Linked DNA regions of Homo sapiens. The gene in region 3 interacts genetically with the main gene of each other region. Each region holds a gene or a part of one and is shown on either strand. Other genes may lie near its edges.

Region 1 (3,726 bases), on a different chromosome or scaffold from region 3:
GGCTAATTTTTTATATTTTTGGTAGAGATGGAGTTTCACCATGTTGCCCAGGGTGGTCTTAAACTCCTGAGCTCAAGTGATCCACCCACGTTGGCCTCCCAAAGTGCTGGAATAGAATTTTTTTTTTTTTTTTTTTTTTTTTGGTGAGACGGAGCCTCACTCTGTTGCCCAGGCTTGAGTGCAGTGGTGTGATCTTGGCTCACTGCAACCTCCACCTCCCAGGTTCAAGCAATTCTCTTGCCTCAGCCTCCTGGGTAGCTGGGATTACAGGCACGTATCACCATGCCTGGCTAATTTTTTTTTGTATTTTTAGTAGAGACAGGGTTTCACCATGTTGGCCAGGCTGGTCTTGAACTCCTGACCTCAGGTGATCTGCCTGCCTTGGCCTCCCAACATACTGGGATTACAGGCGTGAGCCACCGCACCTGACCTAGAATTTTTTTTTTCATGCTACTTCTTTGCCCTATAACTTATGTAGAAGTATGTGTCTCAATTTCCAAATAATTTGGGATTTTTCAGATACCTTTCTAATTTTAATTTTTTAGTTGACTTCTGTTGTGGTCAAAGAACATTACATAATTGAAATCCTTTGAAAGCCAGCTAATTTTTGTATTTTTAACAGAGACAGGATTTCACCATGCTGGGCAGGCTGGTCTCGAACTCCTGACCTCAAATGATCTGCCCACCTTGGCCTCCCCTCCCTGTAAAGTGCTGGGATTACAGGCATGAGCCACCGCACCCGGCCTTCATTGCAATATTTGGTCTGTTCATATTTAACATAATTAATGATATGGTGGGATTTAGGTTCACCATCTTGCTATTAGTTTTCTGTTTGTTCCTTCTGCTCCTTTGCTGTCTTCTTTTGGACTAATCAGGTATTTTTTAGTATTCCGTTTTTTTCCCCACTCTTGTCTTATTAGCCATGCTTTTTTTTTTTTTTTTTTTTTTGAGACGGAGTCTTGCACTGTTGCCCAGGCTGGAGTACAATTTGCAATGGCATGATCTTGGCTCACTACAACCTCTGCTTCCCAGGTTCAAGCGATTCTCATGCCTCAGCCTCCGCAGTAGCTGGGATTATAGGTGTGCGCCACCACACCCGGCTAATGTTTTTGTATTTTTAGTAGAGACAGGTTTTCACCATTTTGGCCAGGCTGGTCTCGAACCCCTGACCCCAAGTGATCCACCCACCTCGGCCTCCCAAAGTGCTAGGATTACAGGCGTGAGCCACTGCCCCGGCCCCTGTATTTTAAGGATTGTTCTAGTGTGTGCACTCAGTTTCCTTAAGTTATCACAGTGAGCTTCAGATATTACACTATTTGATGTTTAACGTGTGGCTCCACACAAGTGTTCTTCCATTTCCTGCCTTTGTGCTGTTGTCCTTCACTTTGCCTGTGATCTGAGCTTCCCAGCACGTTATTACCTTAGATGCAAACCACTGATGACGTGAAACACGCCTTAAAATATATGTGGAATGTAAAGATGTTGAACTCACAGAAGTAGAGAGTAGAATGGTGGTCAGGCGCTGGGGTGGTCAGGGGAGACGTTGGATACAGAATTTCATTTAGATAGGAGGAATAAGTTCAAAAGATCCGTTTTACAACATGGTGACTACAGTTAATAACAATATAGTCTCAAAAAAATGTGTAGATTTTAAGTGTTCTCACCACAAAAGTCACCCCATATATAGTTACCTCATATAGTTGCCATTTCTGGTAACCTTCATTTTTTTTTTTTTTTGAGACAGAGTCTTGCTCTGTGTCCCAGGCTGGAGTGCAGTGGTGCGATCTCAGCTCACGGCAACCTCTGCCTCCCAGGTTCAAGTGATTCTTGTGCCTCAGCCTCCTGAGTAGCTGAGATTACACCCACCTACTCACCTGGTTAATTTTTGTATTTTTAGTAGAGATGGGGTTTTGCCATGTTGGCCAGGCTGGTCTCGAACTCCTGGCCTCCAGTGACCCTCTCGCCTCAGCCTCCCAAAGTGGCAGGATGACAGGCATGAGCCACCGCGCCTGGCCCAACTATTATTTCTTAATATTTATTTTCTTTCTTTAAAAATTTTTTTTCCATACATATTCTGCTTACGTATATTTCTTTATGTGGATGCAAATTTCTGTCTTGTCATTTCTCCTCTACTGAAGAACTTTAACATTTTTTGCAGTACATGTATGCTGATGGTGATGAATTCTCTGTTTTTGTTTCTCTGAAAATGCTTTTATTTCACTGCGTATAGAATTTTAGGTTGACCTTTTTTCTTTTATCGCTAAAGATGTTCTCTCATTTTCTTCTGTCTTTCATTGATTCTGATGATAAATTACTGATAATAATTATTTTTGGTGGTTTCTTTTTTTTTTTTTGCTTTTAAGATTTCTCATTGTCACTGGCTCTTAACAGTTTGGTTATGATGTGTATTGGTGTGATTTTTTTGTGTATATTTTGCGTGGAACTTGTTGAGCATCTTTGAACTGTTGGTTTATACTTTGCATCGAATTTGGAAAATTTTCAGACAGTTCTTCCAGTATTTTTGTGCTCTCCTTTCTCCTCTTCCTGCTGTCCAGCTCCCTGTGCGTTCCTTAGCTTAGATTTTCTCACAGCTCACCGAGGCTCTGCTTACTTTCTGCAAGCTTTTTTCTTTCTGTACTTCAGTTTGATTTGTTTCTATTACTTTATTTATTTATGAGACAGGTTCAGGCTCTGTGGCCCAGGCTGGAGTGCGGTGGCGCAATCTCCGCTCACCGCAGCCTCTGCCTCCCGGGTTCAAGCCATTCTCCCGCCTCAGCCTTCCAAGTAGCTGGGATTACAGGTGAGCGTCACCACACCCGGCTAAGTTTTGTATTTTTAGTAGAGTCGGGGTTTCAGCCTGTTGGCCAGGCTGGTTTCAAACTCCTGGCCTCAAGTGATCCGCCCAGCTCAGCCTCTCACCTTCCCTTTCCTTCTTTCTTTCCTTCCTTCCTTTCTTCTTTCCTCCCTTCCTCCCTCCCTCCCTCACTTCCTTCCTCCTTCCCTCCCTCCCTCCCTTCCTCCCTCCCTCCCTTCCTTCCTTCCTTCCTTCTTTTCTCTTTCTGTCTTTTTTTTTTTTTTTTTGAGACGGTCTTGCTTGGTCACCCAGGCTGGAGTGCACTGGTACAATCTTGGCTCACTGCAAGCTCCGCCTCCCAAGTTCAAGCGATTCTCTGCCTCAGCCTCCCAAGTAGCTGGAATTACAGGCACGTGCCACCATGACTGGCTAATTTTGTATTTTTAGTATAGACAGGGTTTCACCGTGTTATGCAGGCTGGTCTCGAACTCCTGGCCTCAGGTGGATCTGCCTGTTTTTGGCCTCCCGATGTGCTGGGATTACAGGCGTGAGCTGCTGTGCCCGGCCCTAAGTTAGTTTTAATCTCCTTTAATACATTTTTCATTTAAGAGATTGTAGGGCTGGGTGCTTTGGCTCATGCCTGTAATCTCAGCACTTTGGAAGGCTGAGGTGGGAGGGTCACTTGAGTAGCCGGGATCACAGGCATGTGCCACCATTCCTTGGTAACCAGCTTTTAAAAAAACATAATCAGTCCTATTTCCCTGCTGAGGGTACATGTCTCATGATTTATTAGCTGTCTGACTTTAGATATAAAGGAAGCGTGGAGAGGGAAATTTCTGTTCTCCCCAGGAGGTGTTCGTTCTGTTTTAGTCCAGGCCAATAGGGCTGGGGGCCTGGGGCGGGGCAGGGTCTCAGCTTCAGCTCCACCGAGG
Region 2 (3,726 bases), on a different chromosome or scaffold from region 3:
ATGGAATGAATGGTTTATTTAATATTGAAAACTTTGCTTTCATGTATGAAGAAATGGCTCAAAAACACATAATAAAAATTGGGGGAATCTCTTTTTCTTTAAAAATGCTGAAACTCTAAAGGAAAAAAGTGTGTTTTTCTAATAGGGGATGGGAATAATGTCATTACTTAAAAAGTAGCATTTTATTTCAGAGCTGAGAGGTGAAGTAGACCAAAAAAAAAGTACCAATACCAAATATGTTAGACAGTCTATACCATTACACATACTGTTATGCTACAATCTAACCATCACATTAAGTGTAATGAGAAGTTGTAAAATCAAACAGATGTTTAGTTATTTAGTTCACCCTACTTTAGATAAATGAGATGTCTTATTAATTTCCAAATATACTAAAGTTGCTAATTTTTGAAAACTTTCAATCATATATGTATATCCAGCCATACAAACTGAAACTGCTGACACCCAAATCAGGTTCTGAGACATCAGGAAGCTAAATCTCTGAAAGTGGCAAAAATGACAATATTAACAGTGTGCTCGTGAACATGACTTTATAGTGAAGTTCTTAGGCCACTAAAACCTTCCATTTCAATTATCATTTTGACAAATTGGAAAAATAAAGGCATTATCTTACTAGAAATTCTCTTGTCTGGATCTTCTCCATCTTCATCTCCACTGTCTTCATGAACAGCATCTTCTGGAATAGCTTGCATCTGGACACCAGGTGCATGAGGTAACATGCGCAAATTTTCAAACAAACGCTGTCTAAATTACACATGCAAAGTTTATTAGACAAAATTAAATTTCTTTGCAGTTCTTACATGCAAGAGAAAATATTTAGCAAAAAATTTCATCTTTGGTCTAGCTAAACCTATATATTAAAAGGTCTCTCTTTGTTGCCCAGACTAGAGTGCAGTGGCAAGATCATAGCTCACTGCAGCCTCAAACTCCTGGCAATCCTCCTGCCTCAGCCTCTGCGCGTTAGGACTACAAGTGTATGCCACCATGCCCGGCTAATTTTTAAATTTTTTGCAGACAAGGTCTCACTATATGGCCCAGGCTGGTCACAAACTACTGGTCTAAAGCTATCCTCCCACCTCGGACTTCCAAAGCATTAGGATTACAAGCATAAGCCACCTTGACTGGCCAAGGAGGCATTATTTTAGCCTGCCATTTCAATGATGAGAAAACATAAGCACAAAGGCAAGTGAACTTATCAAACATCATACAGCTTGTTTGTGGTACAGAGGTGACTCAAACCCATGCTATGTACTATAATGTCTCTACTTTGCTTGTGGAGACAAAGCCTTAACAAAATGTTCCAGACAATGAAAATAACTTATAGTGCACCTTGCAATTTTAAAATACATTTCAACTAATAAAAAAAATTATTTCCATTAACTGAAGAAATTAAATGGCTGAATACGGTGGCTCATGCCTGTAAGCTCAGCACTTCTGAGAGGCAGAGGTGACAGGATCACTTGAAGCCAGGAGTTCGAGACCAGCCTGGGCAACCAAGCAATATCCCATCCTGACAAAAAAATTAAAAATTAAAAAAAAAAAAAAAGAATAATCAGTAACTTAATGTTTCAAATCCTTTAGAAAAAAACAAAATATCTAATAAAGTTAAAAAGACCCATCATACTTGGCCCTTTAAAGCATACTAAATCTTTGTCAAGATAAAATGTTTATCAAAACAATTCAATGATTTCTTACTTTATCTTTTCCATATATTCTGGAGTGTTCTGGTTTGTCATGTTTGAAGGACTAATATGCAGTTTGAAGTCTGGTCCAAAATACTCAAAGTAATCATTATATGGCAACTCTAATGAAAACAATAAAATAAAGTTACATATTACAAGCTCAGTTTTCACAAAAAACCATGCACAGAATCCAGATTTAGGTGGTGAAATATTTCCTAAGAAAATGTTTAAAAGTGAACACAAAGTGAATGTTCTCCTATTTATAAAGAATGGCACTTACTCTAATCATTCATCCATCTATTTCTATATACAGACAGTCTCTGACTTTCAATGGCTTGACTTACAGTTTTCTGGCTTTTTTGTACCAACTTCAATGTCTTGTATTCAGTACATTACATGAAATATTCAACGTTTTATTTTTATAAAACAGGCTCAGTATTAGATTATTTTGTCCAACTGAAGCCTAACCTAACTGTTCTGAGCACGTTTAAAGTAGGCTGGGCTAAGTCATGTTTGGTAGGTTAAGTGTATTATATCCATTTTCTACTTATCATACTTTCAACTTATGATGGGTTTATCAGGACCTAATTGCAACATAATTAGAGGAGCATCTGTATTGACAGTTCATACAATAAAGATATTGTAATGAGAACACTTACCATTGGGAATCTCACAATCAAGGGCAACTGCAGTCTCATATGTCCAACATCGAGCAACATTACGGATTGTGTAGCCACCTCCTCCAAGCATCAGTAATGGTAAGTTAAAAGTTTTTACAACTTCTACACATTTAGCATGACCTAAGACAAGAAGATTTGGGTAACAACAAAATCTGCATACTGCAACAGTTCGAAAAATAAATTTTAAAAAGATAATAAGTGCAAATGTTACTCAACCAAAATGGGTTTTCTAAATATTTTAAAAACAAATAAAAATGTAAAAAATGTCAAGTCTAAAACTCCTTTCCAAACACGTTATACAATAATACATATTAAAAAATTAAGATATAACTAGCTATTTTAGCAGGTGTCCCTGATGGAAAAGTCAAGTACACAACTATATTAAGATTATAATATGAATATACACCTATTTTATTAACACAGAAAGATGTTCATGTAGGGTTACATGGTGAAATTCATCATGTTACAATAAAACATTATGTATCATCTAAATTAATTTTTATTGACTTTTCTTTCCCTATGGACATGTGTAAAATAATTATGGAAAGCTAAACAACATAGTTTAACCCTGAGTTAACTTTAGGTAGTGGTACTGAGTAGTTTTCCTAACTTAAGAGTTAAAAACATCTATTAATTTTCAAAAACTTCAACTTCTACGTGTAGAAATTTAATATTAATAGTAAACCTAACATAAAAGTAAATATTTTATGTGGATAAATGTCATAATTCAATAAACATTTATAAGTTTCCAGTAAGTTCCCTTCTCGGAATATTACCAGTTAGGCACATAACTCAATCTTTAAAGAAGAAAAGAAAATCCTTCAATTACAAAAGACATTTGTGCATACTGAAGAGTATTTGGGAAAAAATTAAAAAGGGACAATGAAAAAACTAACCACCTAAAAATGACATTATTCAAAAATCGTTTTTCTATATTTCCTTCCATTTCAGAGTTAATTTTACAAAGTTTATCTGTTCTCTTCATGTAACTGTATACTGTGGGAATTTTCATTAAGCATTCTTCAATAGTTGCAACATGTGATTTACATAATTCTAGCACTCAATTTTTATTATTGCTACTAGAAAAGTTTCTTTTAACAGATAAAAACCATTTGGATATTTTTAAAGAAAAAACAAACATACTAAAAGTTAACTTACAGGCTTCCAAGTAAAGATAGCTGGCTAAACAAAGATGTTTACTTTTCCTTCATCCCAAAACTTGACAAAAATGACTCGAAAGGGATTTTTTTAAAGGCCAAAATTTGTAAAAATGAAGAATGGGAGACAATACAAGAGGAAGAACATAGCTGATGGCAGCAAGGAGATGGAAAAGAGATAACTAACTT
Region 3 (4,133 bases):
CTTCCAAATTTTCACATTAATTTCCCATGCAATTCTCCCAAGCATTGCTGAGGTAGGCCAAATTGGTTCCTCTTCAAACAGGTGAGGAAATTGAGCCTCCGAGATGAAAAGTAGCCCAGGTCCTTCCCACCCAGTGCTCTTTCTTCCTTGCCACCTCCCACCTCCCATTCTTACCTCCTAGGAGGCTTGGCTGCATGGCAGTTGTTCTACTGCAGCCTCTGCTGGCACACAGCCCCTCTGCTGCCTAGCTCTTTCCTGTTCAGAAGGAATGGATGCTGCCTCTGGAGGCCAAGCTGCTGGTCTCCTCTCTTCCTTGAATGGTCCCTTGATTCCCTCAGCAGTGGGGACAGTCTGCAGAATGGGGCTTGCTCTGGGTCACTGTTCTAAGAGCTGAGTTCTAGTCCTCACCTAAGATCAGACTGACATGGCCCTCAAAGGAAGAGCACTAGGTTGGGCTTTGTGGTGGGGATCAGTGTCTCATTTTTAGTCCCAAATTAAAAACGAGATTTTGGGCTGTACATCAGAGCAGTGACATCATGGACATTATGTCTGTGGGTCAGCATGGGTACACACAGCTCCCAGCCCAGGTACATAAGTGGGCCCACATTTCCTGGACTGCATGGAACGCCATGAGCCCAGTGCTCCAGAGCCTTGTACTGTATAGTGCTGCATGATCACCATGGGAAAATCTGAAAACAGCCTCATTTCTGGAATGTACAGGTAACATTCTTCCAGATCCAGCCCTCTGTCAGTTAATGTTTTATTAACTTTTCACTGCTTCTCTAGGGCTCAGAAAAGGGATTTTTAAAAACCGGTTTGCTTCTGCAGGTGCTGTCAGACCTGGGCTATGCCTGGTGGTTTGCACGTGCCCCTAGCTGTTGCTGCCAGTAAATTGCTGGTTACGTTCCCATGCCGCACTCCAAGATTTACCATTGTAGAGTGTCAGAGCTTGAAAGGGTCCCTGAGATCATTAGGCCCAACCTCTTCATGTCATAGAAGAGTAAACTGAGGCTCATAGAGGAATAGTGATTAGTTCAAAATCACCCGACAAGTGAGTGGACTTGACTTGGTCCCAATTCTAAATGTGCTATTTGAGATCAGTGGTTCCAACATGGTTACCCAACAGGCAGCACTGGCCTTCTACCTGTGCCTTTCCTTGACTGGATGAGAGTAGTACTGCCTTTGGACTGCAGAGAAGACTTTAAAAAAAAGTAGCACTGGCTGGTGGGAGGGGTGGGATGGGGAGAGGAGATGGCTGGAGCAAGGAGCCAGGCATTTTTCTTATCTCAACATGTGTTTGCAGCCTCCTCCAAAACTGCCCAGTGGAGTGTTCAGTCTGGAATTTCAAGATTTTGTGAATAAATGGTAAGTTGGCTCCTTGTTCTCTGGAAGCGTATACTCTGGATTTGTCAGGCTCCCCACCCCATTTCTGGAAGCACCAGCATTGCTTCTGCAGGCAGAGTTTTGCCCTTTACCCTCCCGTCTGATGATTCTTGGCTGCTGCCATAAGCCCTTTTTTAGAGTGCCAAGACTTATGTGGCATGTCTAACTACATCATGGATGTAGTAGCTGCTCCTTTTGGTACTTGCTCTCCAGGGATTGGCACGTTGCTTTTTGACCTTAGTTTAACTCAGCAAGAATGTATTAACTTACTGTGGGCATGATACTGTGCTTAGAACAGGAGGATGAATCAAGCCCAGGCAATCCTCGGCCTCTAGTGTGCAGAGAAGACAGGCATGCAAACATGTTATTTGAGCTAGAACCAGTGCCAGGCAACAGCTCTTACCTTGTCTTTCTTCCTTTAAGCTTAATAAAAAACCCCGCAGAGAGAGCAGATTTGAAGCAACTCATGGTGAGTCTATTTATTCCGGATTCTTACAGTACCTGTTTATTCATTTGTTCTTCTCTGTCAGTCATCTGTGCAGTACTTCCAGAGCCCATTCATTCCCTGCCCACTGTGGTCCAGCTGAGCCTGGGGCTGCAGAATACCAAACACCAGTCTCCTTTGCTCTCCCATCAGTTTAAGGGAAAGCTGGGGTGACCCCCGCAGCCTGAGTAAGCATATGCCAGAGGAAATGCCTGAGGGGGCCATGGGAAAGAAAAGGCCAGCCCACCCCCTTCATGGGGATGCGGCCTTTCCCTAATACTGACTGCCTCATCTTACATTCAGCCTCCTTCCAGAGTCACTCTCCGCCTGCTGTCTCGTTTGGTGGCAGTGGAAATAGCTAAGTAATACTGTAAATATCTGGACAGCCATAGACGGTGTATATAGTATATAATATGCACTAAGTCCATCATTTTCTTTGTCCCTTCTAACAAGCCTGTGAGGCATTTAAGGCAGAGTTACTGTCTCCATACTGCACGAGTAGGCTCCAAGAGGTGACTTGCCCAAGGCCTCACAGCTGCTGTGACTGGTGGAGCAGGTCTTTGGGCCTGCAGCTGGCCCCACTGTTGCTCAGGGGCAGGTGCCAGGTGCTCTTTCCAAGTGCAGCACAAGCTCTAGACCTGAAACTCTTGGATTTTCCTTCCTGGTGGGTTTTGTTTTTTTGTTTCTTTTTAACACCACGTCCTCTCGTTTCCTTACATGCAGGTTCATGCTTTTATCAAGAGATCTGATGCTGAGGAAGTGGATTTTGCAGGTTGGCTCTGCTCCACCATCGGCCTTAACCAGCCCAGCACACCAACCCATGCTGCTGGCGTCTAAGTGTTTGGGAAGCAACAAAGAGCGAGTCCCCTGCCCGGTGGTTTGCCATGTCGCTTTTGGGCCTCCTTCCCATGCCTGTCTCTGTTCAGATGTGCATTTCACCTGTGACAAAGGATGAAGAACACAGCATGTGCCAAGATTCTACTCTTGTCATTTTTAATATTACTGTCTTTATTCTTATTACTATTATTGTTCCCCTAAGTGGATTGGCTTTGTGCTTGGGGCTATTTGTGTGTATGCTGATGATCAAAACCTGTGCCAGGCTGAATTACAGTGAAATTTTGGTGAATGTGGGTAGTCATTCTTACAATTGCACTGCTGTTCCTGCTCCATGACTGGCTGTCTGCCTGTATTTTCGGGATTCTTTGACATTTGGTGGTACTTTATTCTTGCTGGGCATACTTTCTCTCTAGGAGGGAGCCTTGTGAGATCCTTCACAGGCAGTGCATGTGAAGCATGCTTTGCTGCTATGAAAATGAGCATCAGAGAGTGTACATCATGTTATTTTATTATTATTATTTGCTTTTCATGTAGAACTCAGCAGTTGACATCCAAATCTAGCCAGAGCCCTTCACTGCCATGATAGCTGGGGCTTCACCAGTCTGTCTACTGTGGTGATCTGTAGACTTCTGGTTGTATTTCTATATTTATTTTCAGTATACTGTGTGGGATACTTAGTGGTATGTCTCTTTAAGTTTTGATTAATGTTTCTTAAATGGAATTATTTTGAATGTCACAAATTGATCAAGATATTAAAATGTCGGATTTATCTTTCCCCATATCCAAGTACCAATGCTGTTGTAAACAACGTGTATAGTGCCTAAAATTGTATGAAAATCCTTTTAACCATTTTAACCTAGATGTTTAACAAATCTAATCTCTTATTCTAATAAATATACTATGAAATAAAAAAAAAAGGATGAAAGCTACTTTTGCTTTTGTGGTAAGCTTTTCAGTTTCTTTAGTACACAAGAAATACTGGTTTAGCCAAGCAACACTGGTGAGGGGGAAAGGTGAAGATGAGGAGGAGGCTGGAAGGCAGAAACAGGACACCGAGTTCAGTGCTTTGGACTAATGGGGCTTCCTGTAATTTCAATCTCTGGACTCAGTCCAGCTCTTCTCACCCAACACCCTTATCTGTGACTCTTCCAACCACCTTCCTTGTGGGACCTGTGAATAGATCCTGTATATTCCTTTGATCTCTTTTATACAAGGGAAAAGCAGCTGATGGGGGACTGGGAGCAAATCTGAGAAAAATGACAAAACATTTCTTATCTCACAGAACATTTCTCATTTTCCATATACCAATAGTTGAGCTGAGGGCCTGCCTGCACTTTTAGGCTGTCATGCTCATAGGAGGGCCTTGCTGGTGGCCAGCTTGCCTACCTGGTGTGGGAGCTTTCTGCACAACATAGGACAGTCTGTCTCC

What was found.
Region 1: changes in MAP2K1 (region 3) and ING5 are lethal when combined (synthetic lethality), as found in Homo sapiens cells (one large-scale study listed by BioGRID).
Region 2: changes in MAP2K1 (region 3) and HDAC2 together harm fitness more than expected from each alone (negative genetic interaction), as found in Homo sapiens cells (one large-scale study listed by BioGRID).

What each region holds. Positions count from the first base shown.
Region 1 is NC_000002.12:241,715,356-241,719,081, forward strand, and holds part of ING5 (inhibitor of growth protein 5), read left to right. Parts: intron 1-3,726. UniProt on the Homo sapiens protein: Component of the HBO1 complex, which specifically mediates acetylation of histone H3 at 'Lys-14' (H3K14ac) and, to a lower extent, acetylation of histone H4. Component of the MOZ/MORF complex which has a histone H3 acetyltransferase activity.
Region 2 is NC_000006.12:113,943,649-113,947,374, forward strand, and holds part of HDAC2 (histone deacetylase 2), read right to left. Parts: intron 2,501-3,726; coding exon 2,360-2,500; intron 1,823-2,359; coding exon 1,714-1,822; intron 763-1,713; coding exon 632-762; intron 1-631. UniProt on the Homo sapiens protein: Histone deacetylase that catalyzes the deacetylation of lysine residues on the N-terminal part of the core histones (H2A, H2B, H3 and H4).
Region 3 is NC_000015.10:66,487,912-66,492,044, forward strand, and holds the end of MAP2K1 (dual specificity mitogen-activated protein kinase kinase 1), read left to right. Parts: intron 1-1,303; coding exon 1,304-1,365; intron 1,366-1,806; coding exon 1,807-1,852; exon of another isoform or gene 1,853-2,590; coding exon 2,591-2,704; 3' UTR 2,705-3,633; downstream 3,634-4,133. UniProt on the Homo sapiens protein: Dual specificity protein kinase which acts as an essential component of the MAP kinase signal transduction pathway.